Linked DNA regions of Homo sapiens: regions 2, 3 and 4 are each reported to be linked to region 1. Evidence: microRNA targets listed by miRTarBase, many of them from high-throughput screens and not tested one by one. Region 1 holds a microRNA gene; each other region holds the end of a gene's coding sequence.
Evidence for each region. The annotated mature microRNA hsa-miR-7856-5p reads UUUUAAGGACACUGAGGGAUC and lies in region 1 at 3,495-3,515, shown strand. An mRNA with a match to its seed (bases 2 to 7 or 8) in the 3' UTR can be bound and repressed. Matches are read on the target gene's strand: a 7mer-m8 pairs with bases 2 to 8, a 7mer-A1 pairs with bases 2 to 7 and ends in A, and an 8mer does both.

Region 2: the mRNA of GOLGA3 is a reported target of hsa-miR-7856-5p. Seed matches in the 3' UTR shown: 7mer-A1 at 1,081-1,087.
Region 3: miRTarBase lists NEBL as a target of hsa-miR-7856-5p. Seed matches in the 3' UTR shown: 7mer-m8 at 1,612-1,618.
Region 4: the mRNA of SEC63 is a reported target of hsa-miR-7856-5p. Seed matches in the 3' UTR shown: 7mer-m8 at 2,506-2,512, 7mer-A1 at 2,416-2,422, 7mer-m8 at 782-788 and 7mer-A1 at 648-654.

The regions. Positions count from the first base shown.
Region 1 is chr1:86,355,108-86,361,179 of GRCh38, reverse strand. MIR7856 (microRNA 7856) reads left to right here and starts at 3,493; the gene lies at 3,493-3,548. ODF2L (outer dense fiber of sperm tails 2 like) reads left to right here. Exons shown (of 17, transcript NM_001366781.1): 11 at 644-754; 12 at 2,289-2,393; 13 at 4,578-4,736.
Region 2 is chr12:132,769,879-132,773,976 of GRCh38, reverse strand. It overlaps GOLGA3 (golgin A3), which reads left to right. Exons shown (of 24, transcript NM_001389683.1): 24 at 683-4,098. The coding sequence ends at 872. Among named protein-coding and RNA genes, the nearest start is that of ANKLE2, 10 kb to the right of the region's middle. RefSeq lists an enhancer at 1,976-2,175.
Region 3 is chr10:20,780,967-20,787,038 of GRCh38, reverse strand. It overlaps NEBL (nebulette), which reads left to right. Exons shown (of 28, transcript NM_006393.3): 28 at 1,116-6,072. The coding sequence ends at 1,292. Among named protein-coding and RNA genes, the nearest start is that of NEBL, 110 kb to the left of the region's middle.
Region 4 is chr6:107,867,376-107,873,447 of GRCh38, forward strand. SEC63 (SEC63 protein translocation regulator) reads right to left here. Exons shown (of 21, transcript NM_007214.5): 20 at 5,433-5,537; 21 at 381-4,472. The coding sequence ends at 4,329. Among named protein-coding and RNA genes, the nearest start is that of SCML4, 46 kb to the left of the region's middle.

The DNA of each region.
Region 1 (6,072 bases):
GCATCCATGAAATTGCAGTAGACTAACTAGTAAGCTTGCAAGGAAGATAAAATCTCAGACTTTTACATTTCTACATATCTTCTTTTAATTTTATGCTCTTTAGGACTTTTGCTATCCTGAAATGAAATACAGTTTTATCTGAATTGTCTGAAAATTTTTAAAGTTTTTATTTAATTCATTTGATGCTTCTTTAGTGTTGGGCTGAGGCAGGTAGTTAACCTGTTTTTTTCCTAATAGTTAAACAGTTGTCTTATTGTCATTTATTTAGTTGTCCATGTTTCCTCCATTGATTTAAAAATCTAACCTTTATCATGTATTAAGTATAATTTTTGTGTATTTTTCTTTTCCAGTAACCTCTGTATTCTATTGATTTTTCATATCTAGGCACATTTCCAAGTTTTTTTGTCAGTAAATTTAGAAAGTTTTAAAAATAATATGTCCTGTGTAAATCTTAATAAGGATGTTCATAATTATTAGTCACTAGCTTTGTGAAATTCCTAAATTTTAGATGGTATTGCATGAAATAAAAAATAATTATTTTATCAACTTTGTTAATACATGAGTTATGTTTTTATAATAATTCTGTAGCACTGGAGTATAAATGTATTCTAATGACTTATAAAATCTATATCTTTTTTGCTAGACTACACTTGCTGCTTTGAAGGATGAAGTTGTATCTGTTGAAAATGAACTCTCAGAATTGCAAGAAGTAGAAAAAAAACAGAAAACCCTTATTGAAATGTATAAAACTCAGGTGACTACTGCATTTATTTTAGTGTTTACTAAAATTGGTAGACAATTTAAAACACTATTTCTTTGTAATCTAAATAAATAGAACTGAAGAGAGGTGGGGCTATCATTGTGGGTTATAATATGGTGTGTCTCAAATATTTCTTAAGGTCCCACACATCTTTATAAATAGATGATTCTGCTGATTCCTGATTCAAACACTGCATATGGATATACTGGATATTCCTAAAAGTAGATTTAAAATGAATTACATCGGTATAATGTGACCCTTAATGTATTCTTGTTAATCTTGGTTATATTTGTTTGTCATCATGTGTATTTAATGGTATTGATTTAGATTAATGACTCCCTTCTAGGGTCATTAAAGTTCATTATGCCTCCTTTCTCAAGAAATAAAGTATAATTCAGATTATTCACATGAAAGACCAAGAAAAGAACATATGACAATATATATGAAATAGACCATGTGTTCAATGGTAATTTATAGAAAACCTTTATTTTTTTGGAAATGTAGTATTCAAGAAAAAACTTCATAAGATGGGACTTATGCAGGTCCTTGCATGATGGTTAACACACTGGTCAGAGAGAGTTTGAATTAAAGAATAATGAACTGGCTGGGTGTAGTGGCGTACACCTGTAATCCACTGGGAGGCTGAGGTGGGCGGATCATTTGAAGTCAGGAGTTCGAGACTAGCCTGGCCACCATGGTGAAACCCTGTCTCTACTAAAAATACAAAAATTAGCCAGGTGTGGTGACATGCACCTGTAGTCTCAGCTATTCAGGAGGCTGAGGCAGGAGAATTGCTTGAATCCAGGAGGTGGAGGTTGCAGTGAGCCGAGACTGCACCAATGTGCTCCCAGCCTGGGCAACAGAGCAAGACTCCATCTCAAAAAAAAAAAAAAAAAAAAAGAATGAACTAAGGATGAAAGCTTAAGGGGGCCAAAGTGTGGGCAAGTAGGAAGGGGCTGCATCTCGATGGATTAGATGGGAAAATTAAGTTGAGACATCCAGTTAGAATATTTCAGTCATCCAGGTCTGAGGTAGGAATGGAGGTTGTGGTGGACTGTGGGACTTGTTATTCATCAGGGTCTTCCAGCTGGTTATTTGGGTTTAATCCCTCAGCAGGAATACTGTGGTTGAGTGACCATATTCTGGGTGCAGGGCCTAGAATTTTTTTTTTTTTTTTTAGCAGATTTTGATTTGGTGGGAAAAATAATTTAAATGGAAGCTAGTTTGGACCAGAGACTGATTCTTTGAAGTGACATTGATCTGCAAATGAAAATCTTTGTAGTCTTCAAAGCTCAAGTGGAGAGTTTAGAAGTATTGATGAGAGAAGACAGGTAAATCAGACAAAGATTGTGGGTTAGAGTAGAGCACTGAGTGATTCCATATTTAAAGAAGTAATAACATTAGATGAACCAGTCAAGGATATTGATAGGAAAATAATGACTTGTTTAAAATGAAATTTTAAATTTTAGATTTTTATCTCATGTTATGATTCTAAAAATAATATGTTTCTCTAATACTTTATTTTCAGGTACAAAAGTTGCAAGAAGCAGCTGAAATAGTAAAAAGCAGATGTGAAAATTTGCTACATAAAAATAACCAAATAACAAAAACCAAAAATAAAAATGTAGAGAAGGTACGTTTGGAATTTCAAATAAATAATATTTTATATATTTTTTACTTTATGAATAGTACACAAATTCATTCATTTTGGTCATTTTCTCTAGTTCATACTTAGGAAAGGGCTAGTCTTAGCCTCTGTAAGAGTTTGTTTTCCAAGGAAATAATGTTTCTTCCAGGCTGGAAATGTTGTTTGTTTATGTGAATGTTTTTTCACTTTTTTGTTAATATTTGGAAAATAGCATAAATGTTTAATTTTTCTGATGCAAGAGCAGACTTTAAATAGCTCAAAAAATGGTTATCAATCATAAGTATACAAACCTAAGTATCTCTCATTTTTAATCTCACCCTTTTTTTCTGGTTATAAATGTTTTACGTCTACAAAAGCAAAGCCAATATCTGCTAAATGCATTTTTGAAGAAAAATAATATCTTTTAAAAAACGATCATTTCCTTTTATTTGTTCTATTGCAACAGAATGAAGGGAAGGCCAGTGTTGGCGAGTTATGATGTTTTTGTGAATATTTTAAAATTTTTAAATGAAACCGCATCTCTGTTTGGTTTTTTGTGTTGTTTTGGTAAAGAAGCAGTGAAAGTTGTAGGATGCTGACTCCTGGCAGCAGAGGTCATGCGATGTTAGTGGTCGCTTCCATCTGAATCTAATAAGGTTACTCTCTCTGGGTTGCTCCCTATCTTAGGATTGAGAAGTCAGAGCAAGGCAATAATGTGAAGAAGAGGTCAGCCAGAGCAAGCGTCCTCCAGTTATACAGACATAAAGATAGCTCACTGAATGCACAACTTACTGCTTTCATGGAATTACTTTTCACCTATTTTTAGCAGGCCAGCGAATAAACCATTTCATGTCTTTTGGTCTCATTTTCTCATGAAACATACCAGTGCAAATGTCTCCTTTTCTGCTAGGCAGCACTGTAAATAAAAGCATATTTTACAATCCTGTTCAAATGACGGAAAGGGTTGGAGCCTGTCTTTTTCAGATACTGTGAGGTCACAATGTTTTCTAACTAGTATTTAACAAGACAACTATTTTTTTAATGAAATTTTTCTTTTTCTTACTTCACTGTTTTAAGTCTCCTGGTTTTCTCATGGCCTCTAAGATGTTTTAAGGACACTGAGGGATCCTTTGTTCTGGATCCCTCAGTGTCCTTAAAACAGACATTTTTCAGTCTGTTTTTTTTTTTTCCTGTTTTACTTTATATACCATCAGAATATGGATCATGTGTATCCTGTTAGTAGCCACATAGCCTTCTCCTAGCTCAATGCCTAGCACGTAGTAAGCACTCAATATTTTTTTAATTAATGAAATTTTTTTTAAAGGAGCAGTCCAAGGATGGCGACAAGTCTTTTTTCTTTTACTTTCAAGACAGTTTTAGGAAGCATTCCCTGTCTGTCTTCCAAATATAATCTGGATTTTAATTTTGCAAAAAAAAAAAAATACTGCATTATCTTTCCTGATCAAGAATGCCAGATACTACACAGAAACTATTAGGTGTTCCTGTCTCAGGGAAAGAGTCTGGCTATTTTTTGTAATTAGCAGTGCAAACATTTCTTAAGGTTGCTGCTTTTCACATCTCCACGAAAGTGCTGCAGCGAGGAACTGCAGTAGCCAAAACAGATTAATGTAGATGAAATTAGAGAGATTTGTTGATAGTAACATTAATGGCCAAATTAAAGGCAAGTGAGAACTGATGATACTAGCAATTTTTAAATAATATACAGTAAACCCTATCAGTTTTGGCTAAGATGAGTGAAGCAAGCTGCTCTAATTTAAGTAAGTATCTGAGTTATAAGATTGAATGACTAAAAGTGACAATTCCTTTAGAACCTATAGCTGGGCAGTAGACAATTACGGCTTTATTAGTAATGGTTATTAGTGATAATCTATGCTTGAATATAATGTCAGGATTTTAAAAATTTGCTCTTAAAAATTAGTTAAACATCCACCCTGTCAGCTAATTTACCCTATTTATGTGCTCAACAAACTTTTTGAAAACTAAAGTCTACCCCACTTTTTAGTTATACATTCTTATTTAACAGAGTTTAATATTTATTCAGTTGTGTTCTTATTTAAAGCCATTATACCTAAAATACTTACGTTATAAGCATATCTAGTATTTAAGATAATAAAAATATTAATGCTGAATGTGTGATCTTGCACTTATTTCCCTACTGCCACAACTCAGATGAGAGGCCAGATGGAGTCTCATCTGAAGGAGTTAGAGCGTGTCTGCGATTCCTTGACGGCGGCGGAACGGAGGCTTCACGAGTGTCAGGAGAGTCTGCAGTGCTGCAAGGGGAAGTGTGCAGACCAGGAACACACCATTAGGGAGCTTCAGGGCCAGGTGTCCAGCCGTCCTTCTGAGTTTTGCTAGATGCGTTAAAAGAATGCTTTGGAATGATTTCACCAGTTGAGGGCACTCATGTCAGGGCTTGATTTTTAAATTCCCATCTACTTAGTTCGTAAAACATCATTTTCATGCAGATACTATAATACAGTTTTGCAAGCTATTCTTTTAGTATTTTATGGTGAAAAATTGGTAATTAAAATTCTTATTTTAGTTTATTCATGCAAATCTATAGACATTTGAAGACATGGTAATAGAATGAGAGAAGGAGCAAAGTTATACTTACATATATGTTCCTTGATGTAAGGATAAGGTAAATTATTGAAACTTACATTACAAAAATTGAATTTATTTTAATTAGAATTGTACGTCAAGTTTTTTGGGATATTTTTCAGTCTGTTTCTTTTTCCTGTTTTACTTTTTATACCATCAGAATATGGATCATGTGTATCCTGTTAGTAGCCACATAGCCTTCTCCTAGCTCAATGCCTAGCACATAGTAAGCACTCAATATTTTTTTAATTAATGAAATTTTTTTTAAAGGAGCAGTCCAAAGATGGTGACAAGTCTTTTTTCTTTTACTTTCAAGGCAGTTTTAGGAAGCATTCCCTGTCTATCTTCCAAATATGATCTGGATTTTAATTTTGCAAAAAAAAATACTGCATTTTCTCACTTAAAAAGTAGGAGCTAAATGATGAGAACACGTGGACACATGGAGAAGAACAACACACAGTGGGGCCTTTCAGAGGGTGGAGAGTGGGAAGAGGGAGAGGATCAGAAAAAATAACTAACAGGTACTAGGCTTAATACTTGATTGATGAAATAATCTGTACAACAAACCCCCATGACACAAGCTGACCTGTGTAACAAACCTGCATTTGTACCCCTGAACTTAAAAGTTAGATAAAAATATGCAGACAAAATTTTAGTTTAAATTCCTGAGAAGAGATTTTTCTAGTAAAATGTCAAACGACATAGATTAGCCTAAATTACTAATTGAAATTATGAGAAAAAAATTTTTTCCTTGAATCAAAGCTTCTTACATTATTTAGAGCAGATTTTGAAGCAGTGGGAAGAATATTCTGTCTTGGCATGGGTGAGTGTGTCTTTGGTTGATTTGTTCACTTTGCTTCTCAAAAAAATATGTATTTTATTTACAGTTTCGACTTCACAGATACTCAATTATTAATCAGTATTTTTAGGTGAAACAGAAAACCATAAGAGAAACCCTAGGTATCCAAAAATAGGAGATTAATACTGCTTAAAATTTTCCTATTTCAACTTAACAAAATAAATATCTTTCTTCAATAAGGTGTTGTTCAAAGTGTTTTAA
Region 2 (4,098 bases), not on the chromosome of region 1:
GCCTTTGAGGTTTATATAAAGGGGGAAGGACTCAGCCTCTGAGGTTTATATAAAGGGGGAGGGGGACTCGCACAGCCTCTGTGGTTTATATAAAGGGGGAGGGACTCACAGCCTCTGCGGTTTATATAAAGGGGGAGGGGGACTCGCACAGCCTCTGAGGTTTATATAAAGGGGGAGGGGGACTCACACAGCCTCTGCGGTTTATATAAAGTGGGAGGGGGACTCGCACAGCCTCTGAGGTTTATATAAAGGTGGGGGAACTCGCACACACAGCCTGTGAACTCATAGGTGGAAACTGCCTGGAGTTAAACTACCCTGATAGGCCCTGAGAAGCTGGAAGGCCACACATGGTGCACCTGGCAGCCTGAGGCTGAGCGAAGTGTGTAGGGCGGAGCCAGGCGGCGCCCCGAGGGCAGGTAACGGAGTGGAAGTCGTGTGTGCCAGGCCTCAGTGACAGCTTCCACCCTGCCGCCTGGTCAGGACTGGTCCTTGAGCCTGTGTCCTCTGCACAGTGTAGAGAACGGTGCTGAGAACAGCTGAGCTTCTGTGGTCTCAGTTGGTTTGCGGATCCCCGAAGGCGCCCCGGTCCACTCAGGTGCTAGCGAGTGACGCTGTCCACAGGTGGCGCGTTCTGCCTGGCACTTGTGTGATCTGGGCCTTCTTCCTCCTTCTTCTGTCCCAGGCAGGAGATGGACAGCCTGCAGCGCCAGATGGAGGAGCACGCCCTGACGGTGCACGAGTCTCTGTCCTCGTGGACGCCGCTGGAGCCAGCCACTGCCAGCCCTGTGCCCCCGGGGGGTCACGCCGGCCCACGCGGCGACCCACAGAGACACAGTCAGAGCAGGGCTTCCAAAGAAGGGCCGGGAGAGTGACTGCTGTGGACTCGCCTCCGTGCGCCGCTGCCCCAGAAGGCTCTTATCAATGTTATTTATTTGATTGTGTGGTCGATGTTTTTCTAAGACATGAAATTTAAGTTTTGTTTTGCCTTTAACAAGAAGTAAAATATATAGCAGAATGAGAGCCAAGGACTAGAAAAACATTCGAAGATCACAATTAGCTTTTCACATGGAATGACCAACTCTTAAAAGCCTGATAGGCTCTCGGCGAGGAGCTTTGAACGTGTCTGAAGGGTTACTTGTAGGTCGTGGCTTCTGAGCGGCCACCGATGCTGCTCTCTGCGGGTGACAGGGAGAGGCTGCGTAACTGGGAGCAGCTGTGTGACAGGGTCTGCGGCACCGCGCCTGGCCAGGCCGGCTGCAGTTTCTCACTTCCCTGTTCCATTCAGTAAGAGCTTTACTTTTCCGCAGAAATGAAATTTTATCTGTACCTTTGGCTTTTTACTTGTTTTTTTGGATAGCCATCCCACCATAGGATGTGTACATAGATACTGAATATCATAATCCAATCTTTGTTTTTTTTTTTTTTTTTTTTTTGAGACAGAGTCTCGCTTTGTTGCCCAGGCTGGAGTGCAGTGGCACACTCTCCGCTCACTGCAAGCTCCGCCTCCCAGGTTCATGCGATTCTCCTGCCTCAGCCTCTCGAGTAGCTGGGATTACAGGCGTGCGCCACTATGCCAGGCTAATGTTTGTATTTTTAGTAGCAATGGGGTTTCACCATGTTGGCCAGGATGGTCTCGATCTCCTGACCTCAAGTGATCTGCCCATCTCAGCCTCCCAAAGTGCTGGGATTACAGGCGTGAGCCCCTGCGCCCGGCCTGTCACCCAGTCTTTAAGAAGCATATGCTCATGTTATTGAAGAAGAACCTACTTATTATTGATTGCCTTTTGAAAATTTGTTGGGAATAATTTACCTGCAGGATTTAGGGATAGTCAGAAAATTCTAAGAAATATAATTATTTTATTTACCTTCTAAAGCCAAATATTCTTACACAGAAAGGTCCTCTGTTGTTCTGGTTTTACTTTGTTGCTGAGGATCTTTCCTTCCTGCTGGTCTCTTCCTCTCAGGCCACTGGCCCTGTGTGATTCCACCGTGGCTGGCCACTGGGAAGGGGCAGCTTGGACCCTTGGTCAGGCCTGACGGCCATCAGGAGGCACAAGGACACTGAGGCCCCATATCTGATCTGACCTTTGGGGGGGCACAGGGAGAGGCCGGTGGAGGAGGAGGAGGAGAGCAGACCAGGGGCTCCCTGCAGCGACTCCCGCGGTTTCCCCTGGAGTCAGCCAGGTGTAGGTCGCAGGCGGTAACAAACCTCACACTCCTGTTCCCCAAGTGAAAATCTTTACCATTGTCTGTGGGAGCGCCTGTACTCGTGTGTAGGAGCACCTGTACTTCTGCAGTCATCGAGAAGTCCTGGATCTTTTGTGGTTACACCAGCATCATGTGGCAAGCAGAGGCGACTTCCGGAAGAGACAGGCAGGCACCGTGAGGAAGGTGGCTGTGCTCTCCCAGGTGTCTCAGAGACAGATGCCTTATTTAAAATCAGCACGACATGTGTGAGATCTTCTGTTTCCTACCCCAAATCCTGAAACCCTGCAGACACTGGCTGACTGGGAGAGGTGGGGTCTGTAAGTTGTCCCCTAGTTTGCTAAGAAAATCTAAAATAATATTTATTATATGAGTTAGGAGAGAGAGAATGGGTCCGCGTGGCCTCCTCTGCAGATGTACTGGTCTGAAATGAGGTTCTGAGTCACTGGCCAGGCCAGATGTGCTCATGTCGGTGTCTGGTGTCTGTTTTGTGGAGAAAACAGTATGGTGTGTTTTAAGCTATTTGTGTTCTGTTGTAATATACTTTTAGAAGGTTAATTGGTAAGGTTAAGGTAGCATTAACCACAAAGATGTTTGGTATTTAAAAAATATTCTCTAGCAAATATTGGAATTTCCAAAATATATCATTTGTACAGGGTTAATTTTGAAATAATACTTGAAAATTTCATTATAAATATATCCTACTTTTTATCTTAAGTTGAAGATGTTATTTACTAAATTGTTCTTGTACCATTAGAAAAAAAAATACGGCAATTTACGTTCTTATTTATTTTGGCTGTACTACCCCTTTGTTTTAATTTTAAAATCAAGAAATCGGGCCGGGCGCGGTGGCTCATGCCTGTAATCCCAGCACTTTGGGAGGCCGAGGCGGGTGGATCACCTGAGGTCAAGAGGTCCAGACCATCCTGGCCAACATGGCAAAACCCCGTCTTTACTAAACATACAAAAATTAGCCGGGTGTCGTAGTGCGCACCTATAATCCCAGCTACTTGGGAGGCTGAGGCAGGAGAATCACTTGAACCCAGGAGGCGGAGCTTGCAGTGAGCCGAGATCGCGCCACTGCCCTCCAGCCTGGGCAACAGAGCGAGACTCCGTCTCAAAAATAAATAAATGATTTTAAAAAATCTAAAATCGAGAAATCACACATTCAGTGGGGAGCGACTTCTCCTTGCTTATGGGAAGTCCTCAAGTGAGTGATGTTCACCATGTATTTTTTTTTCTCTTAGGACAGACTAATTCTGAAAATACCGAAGGAAAAGTAGCTCTATGTTCTCACCCCGGTTTTCCTGCGTGTGTGCCCTTGGGTGCGATGCCTCCCCCAGCGCTCTGTGGTCGCCGGTGCCAGGGCCCCCTCTGGTTTGGCAGGGCCTGGCTGCCTTTGCTCCCTGCAGTGAGTCTTTTGGTGTTTTCATGCACGGCTTGTGCTTCTGGATCTGAGGCCTCTCGTGTTCACGCGGACACTTCCTTCCTTAAGAAGACGCCTAAAAGAGGAAGTTGGAATTTTTTTTTTTTTTTTTTGAGACAGAGTCTCGCTCTGTCGCCCAGGCTGGAGTGCAGTGGCGTGATCTCTGCTCACTGCAAGCTCCGCCATCTGGGTTCAAGCGATTCTCCTGCCTCATTCTCCCCAGTAGCTGGGATTACAGGTGCCCGCCACCACACCAGCCTAATTTTTGTATTTTTAGAGGGGTGGAGTTCCACCATGTTGGCCAGGCTGGTCTTGAACTCTTGACCTCAGGTGATCCTGAGCCTCAGCCTCCCAAAGTGCTGGAATTATAGGCGTGAACCACCGCCCCCGGCTGCAGTTGGATTTTTAAATTGCTTTTTTTTATTGTTGAGGTTTTTTTATCTCCAAGGGACTCTCCCGGCACTTCT
Region 3 (6,072 bases), not on the chromosome of region 1:
CTTACAGAGGTAAACTGTTGAGAAAGGAAGGCATTAATAAGCATTACATAAAACAATAAAACATACAAAGAATCTACCAGTACAGTATCCTAATTGTTACTTCATGATTGGTACTAGCCGATTATGCTCTTTACTCATGCCTTAGGAGCATGGATATTTGATGGTTGTATTTACAAGTTCATCTTAATCAAAATGAACACAAAAGCCTAAATTATGTGGCCAAAATATATCTTCAAATCCCCCATTGGAAATCTTGAAGAACTGGTTCATATATTCAGTGTAAAACTTGGAAGAAGTGTTCAACATTTGCTAGTTATACTTGGCTTCTCATGCAGAAATTTCTTCTACAAGCCCTCAACATAGTCTCTTGGTCTTTGCCTCAACACCTAGAAAACTCTTCTACACTGTCCGGTAACTTGAATTGCTCTAAAATTCTTTGGGTCCCAGCCATGTCCTCAGTCTGTGAATGTACTTGATTTTGAGATTGTCTGATGTTAATGTTAGCTAAATGCTTAGCCTTAAACAAAAACAAATATAGGAAAACTCATTATAATCATAATATAATAAGTACAATTGAGTATGTATCTTAACATTCAGGACACTTATATGCTAAATTTCTCTCATAGTGATACAGAAACCTATATAGTGAGTATGTTATGAGTTTTTTCTTTCATTTGTTTTACATAGTTTTAAGAGGAAATGAACATTTTTAGCATCAACTTAAGAAAAGTACATTGCCAGGAGAGATTTGAACTTCTCTGACATATGACGAGTTTTGTTCTCTGAAGAATATGAAATCACATATTATCTAAGGTTTCTGGGGTTATCTGAAGTTGGGGGGAACTTGGCTTTATTATTTCAAAGCCTACTTTTTGATGGGCTACCTGTCGTATTTAGTGACTTTTCTATCCCTGTTCCAAAAATATTAAGCTATTTGCTAGACTAGTAAACTTGAGATCAGCACAATGAGATGCTAGGTTTACAGATTTCCAGAGATACATGTGTTTGAAAACATTCCTAATAGTTACTTTATGTGTGGGTCGGTGTGTTGTGATTGGAATTTGTGGCTGTAGCTATTTCGGCATTCATCGTATAATCCCTTCTTCCTTTCTCAGAGGACCTACCGAGCCATGTACGATTACAGTGCCCAGGATGAAGACGAGGTCTCCTTTAGAGACGGCGACTACATCGTCAACGTGCAGCCTATTGACGATGGCTGGATGTACGGCACAGTGCAGAGAACAGGGAGAACAGGAATGCTCCCAGCGAATTACATTGAGTTTGTTAATTAATTATTTCTCCCTGCCCTTTGAGCTTTATTCTAATGTATCCCAAACCTAATCTTTTTAAAAGATAGAAGATACTTTTAAGACAACTTGGCCATTATTTTACAATGATGTATCCTTCCTTTGACAATTAGACACACAGGTACCAGGAAGAAGGAATGACCTCTGGGCTGAAAACAGCAGCATTTTCAGTAATTCCTACAAACAAAAATCTTTGTGTCTGGACACCTGGTGCTGCTAATTGTGTTCATGGTTTCCTTTGATTGGCTATTGAACCCTTCTGGGAAATGTATTTTTGTAGACTTTAATAGAGAAGTTGATTGTCCCTTAAATGTAGTGTGTGTTTGAAACTTCTTAGCTGTCACTTTGGAATCACCCCAAGCCAATTCTCTTAACTCTGTAATGCAGCCAATAATTTCAAACCCGTTTTGCTTTTGAGTCATGAGGCAATTTCCAATATTAGTGAAAATTGCCCAATATAATAAGTGTAAACAGTGGCAGAAGGACAGTCTGGTTAAAATTATATTGACTGGTGGCCTTAGGGATCTAGAAACTTCTACTAAACAGAGAAATTTCCTTGTTCCCTAGGCTGACTGGTATCTATTTATTTCTCATTTGTACCAAGGCATCTCCTACTCTCCATTTATATTCTATGGACCCAAGTCTATGCTCAGTTCCACAGAATGTCAGGACCAAATAACTTCACAGCTACTCTGCAAAGGGCAAATTATAATGTCATTGATATAATTTCCCTAGTAGCATTTACCCTGTTGCATGTCATGTAGATTCAAGCTTCTGTAACATAGGCAGCTGCACTGCGCGTTCCTATTATTGAAGCAAAAAGGGTGACTGATACCTAAAAGCCCTTTCTTCCTCTAGTCGCCAGCTCATCAGAAAAACATACTTTGAAAAGATGCTTGAGATTTTCCTGCTGCATCGCACTCTAGTTTTGAAGGATTTACATCTTAGGAAATAACATGTATACTCTAGTAAATAAGCGATTTAGGTGTTCCATTGAACAGCTTTGATTAACTTAATGCCACCATTGATTTCAAAGTGAAGAAAATGTAACAGAAGCCAGTGAAGCAATGGAAGCTGGAGTGTGACTGGAAAAATACTCAGCAAACAAAGTTACCAATTCCATACAGAGATGATCTGGTATCTTCTTTTGGAAAATGGTATTCAAATTCTGGAATGGAAATCTAGCCACCAAAACGGGTTAATCAAAAGACGTCCTTTTCCATTTTTTTTTGCTTTTATTTTCTAAATCATTTTTAAGGGAATGAAACAGGAATGTCATCAGAGATTTTTTAGTACAGGCCCAAGAGCCTGTTCTCTAAGAAAGAAATTGTTGCCATGTTTTGATTTTCGAATAAGTGACTTTGCAGGCTTTATGCTAGCCCTTGCTGGTGGGTCTTGAAATTTCATCCAGAGTCTGCAGTCCAGGTCACCAAGCCAGCGGCACCCGTCGGCAACCCTGTGTTTTTCTGATTGTGCCGTTTACTGTGACCTGCAACGGGGTGGCATTCACTTAGGGTCTGACTTCACAGCTATGACAAAACCGAAAAAGCAAAACTGCAAAAAAGTACTAAGATGTACGGGTCTTGGGGATATCTGCCTTATATGTTATATTCAAGGAAATTAACAAAACATCCTGTAAAACATCGTTTAAGGAAACGTTTACTAGTCCAAAGGCCAAAGCTAATTTATTTCCACTTTAGAAAAGTTAGCACATGCTTTTGAAAATCTGTGATTTCATTTTATTAGGCTAAAAGGGTAAATAGGCTTTATTACACTGAAGCTGCATCTATATGTCACTGACATAAAGTTGAAAAAATAAATGCAGGCAAATAACTAGAGACTTCTTTTAAGGGGGTTTGGCTGGTTTTCTCTCACTGAAATGGCCAGTCGTGATTAAAGTGATAAAACCCCATATCTGTTTTGGTATATTGTACACAAACCTACAAAAATAAACTGAACTTGCAATATTTTTGCAAAAAAATCTGTCGTTAAAACTGAGGATAAAATACCTGCTCAATTTTATTTTACTAAGTATATATTTACATTTCACCCAGGCAGGCCATTTTCTTTTGTGATTATAAGAAAGAGTAGTTGTTGATTAAATTTTCAGACTAAATATAGGACAGGTACAATTTTGGATAAATAGCACATTTATAAGAACCGCAATGAAAACTGACTTGAAATAATGCTTGTAATCAGGAAAGTAATTTCATCCACCGATTTCAAAACCAGATTCACTGAGCATAAAAGTCAATACATATTTGAGGAATAAGTCTCCTAAAATTTTAAGCTTCACGTAATAATGTTTGCATAGCAAAATATTTCTGCTTCAAGCCTTTAGGAATTAAGATCTGATCAGAATTTAACTAAAGGGTAGTTGTTTTACAATGAAGACTAAAACTGAACAAGATGTTGCATGCTCTTGAGGCCATAATTTGGTAGTGTTGGCAGTTGTTAATAAAGCTTGTCAGGATGTTAAGCATCTCAGGAGAAATATTGGAAAATTATATGTATAAAACCAAAGTGCTATTTTTAAAAGCATCATTTAAAAAAAAATGACATGCCTGAACAACTTTTCCACTTTCCACGTGCTTCCCTCCCACCTTTGGTTTGGCAACAGGTATCTCGTGCATGAAGCTGACAGCTAAAGAAGATTTTAAAAATTGAGTTAAAGATGACTGTGTAAATGTCCAAGCACAGAGAGCATGCACCTGACTTTCTAAAGTTTGATGTGTTCTCAAGCCTGACAGAAGCACAAGGAACAGTTTGATACACTTTTAAAAGGTTCTGAAAACAAAGCTGTATAGGGATCCTCTCTCTCTTGAGCAAAGTATAGCAACAGAATATATTGCTTTTGTTGTAAGCTTTTGTAGTACATGTTTTTACTAATAATTCTTGTTCTCTAGAAAGCTTTCTATTTCTAACCTATGGCAAAATGAATCCTTCATGTCTTCTTGTTATTGTTTACACACTTGCAGTGTAGCCCAGTTTGAAATATTTATTTGGTTATCAACTGCCCATGGAGGAGGCTCTTGATGATCCCAGGTCTCCTCGACCTCCATACACCACACAGGCATTTGTAAGCACAGTTTCCACAAGCACCTTGTAGGAATATGGATAAGATTAGACCAGCCCCTCTCTGTCCACTGGGTTTATTTCTTGAAGAAGATGCAGATCTGGTTTTTCCAATGTGCCACAGTCTTTCCTTATCCTCTCCATGCTGAGCTTGACAACACTCTGGGAATGAGGAACAAGACTTTTTCTAAAAAGATAGTGGAAGTTCAAGGGATGTACCTCGTTTTCAGGTTCATCCATCTCCAGTGGAATGTTTTCAATAAAAGATGAAGAAAATGTGTGTGATCTTTAATAACACATCCCTATAGAAAGTGGATAAAAGATATACCAAAACTGTAATACAGATATATACAAATATAGGTGCCTTTTTGATTACTCTTGTTTGTCTAGTATGCTCTTGGAAAGAAAACCAAGCAAGCAAGTTGCTGCCTATTCTATAGTAATATTTTATTACACATGATTGATATTTTTGTGGTAGGGAAGTGGGATGCTCCTCAGATATTAAAGGTGTTAGCTGATTGTATTTTATCTCTAAAGATTTAGAACTTTAGAAAATGCCGACTTCTTCCATCTATTTCTGAAAGGTTCTTTGTGGATTTATATAGAGTTGAGCTATATAAACATTAACTTTAGATTTGGGATTTAAAATGCCTATTGTAAGATAGAATAATTGTGAGGCTGGATTCACTACACAAGATGAACTTCACTTCATAAATTAATTATACCTTAGCGATTTGCTTCTGATAATCTAAAAGTGGCTAGATTGTGGTTGTTTTGGTTAAGGTGATATGGAGGTGGGAGAGCTTTTAGTTAAGTAAGAAGCTATGTAAACTGACAAGGATGCTAAAATAAAAGTCTCTGAAGTATTCCATGCCTTTTGGACCCTTTCCTCGCAACTAACTGTCAACTGTTGATCAAAAAAGTCAAGGCATTGTATGTTGCTTCTGTGGTTATTATTCTGTGATGCTTAGACTACTTGAACCCATAAACTTGGAAGAATCTTTGAGCAAATTTTCTCAGTTGTCTGTATGACTTCAGTATATTCCTGGGAATGCCATAGGATTTTTTGTGCTTGATACATGGTATCCAGTTTGCATAGTATCACTTCTTTGTAATCCAGTTGCTGTTAAGAATGATGTACTTTAAAGGAAAAGAGAAAACTGCATCACAGTCCCATTCTCCAGTGTCCATGCAATGAATTGCTGAGCATTTAGGAAGCAGCACCAAGTCTATTACAGGCATGGTGTGAAACTTGATGTTTGACCTGTGATCAAAATTGAACCATTGTACAGTTTGGCTTCTGTTTGCTTCAAAATATGTAGAATTGTGGTTGATGATTAATTTGCGAGACTAACTTTGAGAGTGTAACAGTTTTGAAGAAAACATTGAATGTTTTGCAAATGAAGGGGCTTCACGGAATGTTACAATGTTACTAATATAATTTGGCTTTTGTTATGCAAATTGTTAACACCAGCTATTAAAATATATTTTAGTAGAAATGCTTTAATTCATATTTTTTTCCTCTACACTGTGAATCTTTAAGCCTTGGTGGACTAGAGCAACATCGTGCTGCCCAAAGGACTAACCTATGCAAACTAGTTCACATTTTAGTGGATGTCGCAGTTAATGTGTAATAAGACATTATTTCCCCTGCATAATGTACAACAGCATTGAAATGACACATTAAGCC
Region 4 (6,072 bases), not on the chromosome of region 1:
CCCACACTCACCTTCCATTTGCAGCAGTCACTGATTGCCAGGACCAGCAACAGGCTGTGATTTGCTCAAAGTCCCAGCAAGTCGTCCCCAGCACTGCTGCTCCATACCTGCACCACCTGCACTCCACAGACAACCGTTGTGCAGAACCCTCCCCTTGCCTATCAATCCCACCTCCAGACCTACTCAGCTCTATCTCATAAAAGTCTCACTTTGCTCTTGGCAGCTACAGTAGGGCTGCACACAGTGAATGCCAACCCACCAACTCCAGAGTATATCACTCTGTGATCTCAGGTGGTGAGTGTCAAATGTCACCCTATCAATACCACAAAGCAGTGGTGCCCAAATGTTTTGATCATGGACCCAAATCAGAAAAAAAAAAATTAATGCACCAATAAATGTTTATTTATAAATAATAGAAGTGTACAATTGTACAATATATTATGTACATTATAAAACACACAAAAATAGAAATTTAAAAGGATGAGATTAAATACAAATAATCATCTTAATACTTCCTCAATGGATTGATCATCTCCACGCCCCTGGGATGTATACACCCCCACCTGAAACAATAGCCCTAAAGTATGTCAATGATTGTTATTTGGGTTTTCAGCTCAGGTTACAGAAATATGTACAAGATCGCATCTTTTTAAGTTTTGCAAAATAGCCCTAGCATCAAGTTTAAATGGATGAGAATGCTTGGTGCTAACTTCTTGAGACATATTTGGACTAATCACTACACAGCTGGCAAAATGTTATGGTTCACCAACAGTTATTTCACTTTAAGGCAGTCTAAATAGAGGATTTCATGGAGTTAAATCAGACCGTTTGTGGGAAAATTGTTTCTTAAAAAAAAAAAAACATTTTAAAGGAAAGGATGATGATTTGTTGTTTTTGTTTTTTTTCCAAAAAAACCCAACAGGCTGGGCGCAGTGGCTCATGCCTGTAATGCCAGCACTTTGGGAGGCTGAGGAGGGCTGATCACTTGAGGCCAGGAGTTCGAGACCAGGCTGGACAACGTGGCAAAATCCCATCTCTACTAAAAATTAAAAAATTAGCTGGGTGTGGTGGCATGCACCTGCAGTCCCAGCTACTCAGGAGGCTGAGGCAGAAGAATCGCTTGAAGCTGGGAGGCGGAGGTTGCAGTGAGCTGAGATCGTGCCACTGCACTCCTCCAGCCTGGAGGACAGAGCGAGACTCCGTCTTAAGAAGAAAAAGAGAAAGAGAGAAAAAAAGGCCAGCAAAATAAACAGCTAGCCCCTAAAGAAATAATTCTTCTGCCTACAGTAGATAGACTAAAAAAAAAAAAAGGCATTCCAAATAATAGCCAAGGCAAATGGATTTAAATGGATTGCCACTCATCTACCTGCTCTAACACCAGCGAGTGAGTTCTTAACACTATTTTTTTCATTTTGATAGCTCCAGTATCCAGTCACAGAGCCTGGCACATAGAAACTCAGTAAATATGTGATGAATGACAACCTCTCAAAAATTATGTAAGGTGCTGAATTACATTTGAAATAAGAATTGTGACTACAGAACACTCTAGTATATGGTTTGGATTGGCTGAAGCAAACTGAACAAAACTTGTGGTCAAAAATAACATGCCTAGAGAGCCTCATTATATCTCTCCCTCCCTGTTTCCACATCAGTTGTTTGACATCCACGCCCCCTGCTTCCACCAGAGCCTGAGCTTCCCCATACACAGTGGGACAGTACAGCTGGACAGGCCTGTCCTTTTCCAGCCCTCAGTGAAAGCTGGGAGAAGCAGAGCAGAAGGTATTGTTCTACACAGAGAACTTCACTCAATGTGCTCCCTAACTTAAAAAAAAAATTATGAAAAATGTTTAAAAAATTCAAAAAGGACATGAACATCTAACTCTGAGATTGAGATATTAACACCTCAGGGCCTCAATCAAATATTATAATGCTAAAATACACAACTGCTACACTTTGAATTGTGGTAAGTCTCCTCATGAACAGCTGTATTTTAATAGGTACTTTACCAATTAGAGAAAAATATCACATAATTTAACTGTTTCAATTTCACTTCCTATACACTGTATGATCTATAGGCTCATCAATTGTTGACAAAATGTCAGTTTCTTTATAGGAAGAAAATTGAAACTTTGCTCAAGTTTCCATTAGATTAAATGCAAACTAGGATAGTTTGTTATTCTCATTCCAGAGGAAAAACGAAGGGATGTGGAGTTTAGCGACTTGCTGGAGAGAGAAGAACTATCAACTGAAGGCTCAGTTCTTTCACTACTGCCATATGGAAAGAGGTTACCTAAAGCACTCACTAGAGGAAATTTTATTTTACTTAGTTGGGAAGTACATACACATCACACAAAGAGAAAAGGAAAACAAACTGGTGGAATTTTCTGGTGATGGTAGTTTTTTTTTTTTTTTTTTTTTTAAGCACTGTGGTGTTACTAGGTTATCATCCTCTCCAGAATCTTAAAACCAGAGAAGCCAGCTGTGTGAATGAACTTATAAAGCCTCTTTAAGGCAAAGTAGCCACTAGAAAAAAAAAAACAACTTTTCTTGAAATCTTTCAAGAAAACTAGGAAATATGCATTCTACACATTGTTCTGTCTTGTCTGCTCAGTTTCCTTGCCTTCGTGCCACACCTGTTTTCTCTAATCCCTCCTTTCACTTGACACCAGCTGGCTTACCCCCTGCCACCACACTTAGGTAATCAGTAGCTGCCTCAAGACACTGGTGCTTCACAGCAGAACCTGATTTGAAAATTAAACCCACCCTCCTACTTGTACAATGAAGTAAATGAAAAAAATCCTCAGTGACACTGCCTCCTGCCTGCCAAGAAAGGCTCTCACTAAACTGGTGATTGAGGTTATAGAGAAAGAAACTGCTTTCACCCTTTTATAGGAAATATTACATCTTAAATTTAGAACCAAAAAAACCATTCATGGTTTTGCTAATTTTCACATTTTATTTCCAACTATTGCAGTAACAAGATGCCGGTAGTATTCTGCACTGAAAGTGGCAACCTTTTAAAGTAAACAAGGTTGCAAATTTTAGTATTCCAACAATATTTTGACCTATGGAGATTTTGATAGGAAAGAATTATTACAATCAGTTTTATAATACTACAGACTTATGTTTCCTCCATATCTAGGAATAAAAATATCCACCCTCCCTCAATGATTCATCATGTACACATCTCTACTCTTTACAAGCACTATCCTTCCAGTTGTACTATGAGGGGAAATCCCTCTCACTCCTGGGTTTTTCTACAGTATACAGAAATAGCAGTCACTTTAGCAGTAATGTACAATACTATTCAATCTTTAGTTGAAAAATAAAGAAGTGGATTGCCCTATTTATGTCCTGATAGTAAAAAGACACACACCATTGAAACATAAAACGAGTCAACAAACTTCTATTTTTATTGACAGGAGTCCAAAATGAATACAAAAAAAGCTTCCTTTGCATGTTATACTTACTTTCCTTAAAAAGCTCCTGATAGAGTCAAGTAGACTGAAAACTAAGGATGTAGTTCAGCTTTTAGAGTGAACCTTTTTTAAAAAAGGTTTAATAACATAAGCCACCAGTATCAGAAAACATACAGTCCCACTATCACTTTTAGAGCTAGAACTTATCAAAAGAATTAGATCCTGCATTGATCTGCTAAGATAGAGGTTTAGAAATGGTTTAAGCCATTAAAAGCCATTTTTATAATCTGTCTGATAACTCTGGGCAATTAAGAAAAGGAAAATTCCAAAACGTAGCCCTCTATATCATGTGGAATGTGAGAGAATGCCAACTTATGACCAAGATAAGTAAAAATAAAAGTTTAAATCTATGAGTGGAGCTGTTGTATCACTGCAAAATGTCAACAACAGAGCTTATCAAGAGATTATCAACTTGAGCGATGTTACTTAAACTTGAGCGATGTTACTTAAAACATATTTGTGGTGTTTGCTAAAACTAAAGCTGAACAAAGAAAAGTCGCTCATTTACAGACTGTGTTTCCTGCATCTTTACTTTTACTGGGACCATAGACTGATCAGATAATACATAGCCCACACTTCTGGACAGTTATAATAACAAAGGATTTATTATCATTTGCAGATGAAATAAATGTACCATCCCCTACTTGAAAGGTTTCAATAAGCCTTAACATTTTTCAGGTTGTACCAAGGCACCGCCACTGCCTAGTTATATTATGCACCCATTTCAAGAGTAAAAAAACTACACCTCCCTCAACATCAGTTCTGTACTGTTTCTGGTTTATGATACACTTCCAAAACAGCAAAAAATTGCAAATATGTGCAAACACTGTGGTCCATTCAGAGTACTGCTTAGTCATCATCTTCTTCTTCCTCCTCTTCTTCCTCAAAGCTATCTTCAAAGCCCTCACTGTCCTCCTGGTCTTCATCCCCCTCTATTGCTGTATCCCACTGTGGGTGATTTTCTGGCACAGGCTTAGCCTCATGAACTTCCAACTAGAAAGAAGAATTAAATGTAGACATCAGAAATTTGGGGAGAAATAATGGAAGAAATCTTGGTAAACAAAAGGTTTTCTTTGACCACAGCAATTACAAAGAAATAGTTTTTTATGGACACAATTCTAAATTCAACTCATTCATTTAGAACAGACACTTCATCCCAGAAATAAAACAAGTAAATTTAACAATATGTAAATGTAGTTAAATTTCTAATACAGTTTGATATTTTGATTCTGTATGTTATACTATTTATGAATGTATTTCTATGGCATAAAATAATTGTGATTCTTGAGCAAGAACACTGAGTCATATCTTAACAGAAGCCTTCTGCTTTAAGGAAGAAAAACCCGAGACATTTTGCAGTCTCTAGACTTGTGATGTAAAATTCTACAGTTAATAAAAGAAATATGGAACCCTCATGGAACAAAAAAGAGGTTCGCATTTACTGGCTACTTTTACCCTTTATAATGCAATAATACTTTTAGCACCATCTCTCTAATACAATAGGACACCTTTTATAAAAAGCTCAAGTGAATTGGTAAACAAAGATCAGAGTGTGCTGCAAATGATACTTACAGAAGTGTATGCTCTAAGATGACAAAAATAAATTAGTTTCAGAAATTAATATACACTCCAAATAGAATCTGTGGTTTAAAAAAAAAAAGTGCCTTTCTAAAGAAAAAAGAACCCATTTGCTGAGGCCTTATAAAGTTACAGCACATTAAAATGCATCCCTAAAGTAATTTATATTCAATGTTCTAAACTGTTACACTCCTTAAAAACCTAAAACCTTAAGTTTATTATTGAAAGAGTAGTCCATCAAGTATATCATATATAAAGCATGAGATGACTTCTTTTTCCTTCCATAACTCTACATTTCAAAACTAGAAATGTTTTCCTAGTATATTAAACATTTATACAGAAAACTCTTATTTATTGAAGAGTCACTATTCTTACCTTCAATGGTTTAATCTGATCCAAACCCATATAGGAGTCTGATCTCAGAAACACAGTATACTGATAATTTCCAGGCTTGCCTGGTGCAGGAAACTTCAGCTCTACCTAGAAGATAAAATCAGCACTTAAAAATCTGTATTATGGGGAGGAAACAGCTCACTCCCTAAAATTCCTAGACCACAGTATTTAACAGCCAGGTTTTTTCTGCAGATGATACAGAAAGTCCTAATAAATGTTACTAAAGTCCTTATAAACAATAATAAAAAAAAGCGAAATGTATGTTACATATTATAAATACCTCCCAAAGAGGAAATCAAATTATGCAGAACTGATGAGGTTAATTTGTCTCTCCACAATTCAAGAAAGCAGTACTTAAAGCAACCAAATTCTATGCTATCATCTTGAAGAAATTAAGCAGGTATAAAAGCATAAGTAAATGAAATGTTGGAATAAAACAACAGACTTCACTAGATAGGAGATACTTCCTGCCAAATTTTCTTATTTCTAGAATAAACGCCCAATGCCAAAGGTCAAGAAGATATTTTATTTATCATCAAATCATAAACTTCAAATACAAATAGTAACAAACTCTTAAAAAGTTTCTATTCCACTTGGACAAAAGAACAATTTTTTAAAAATG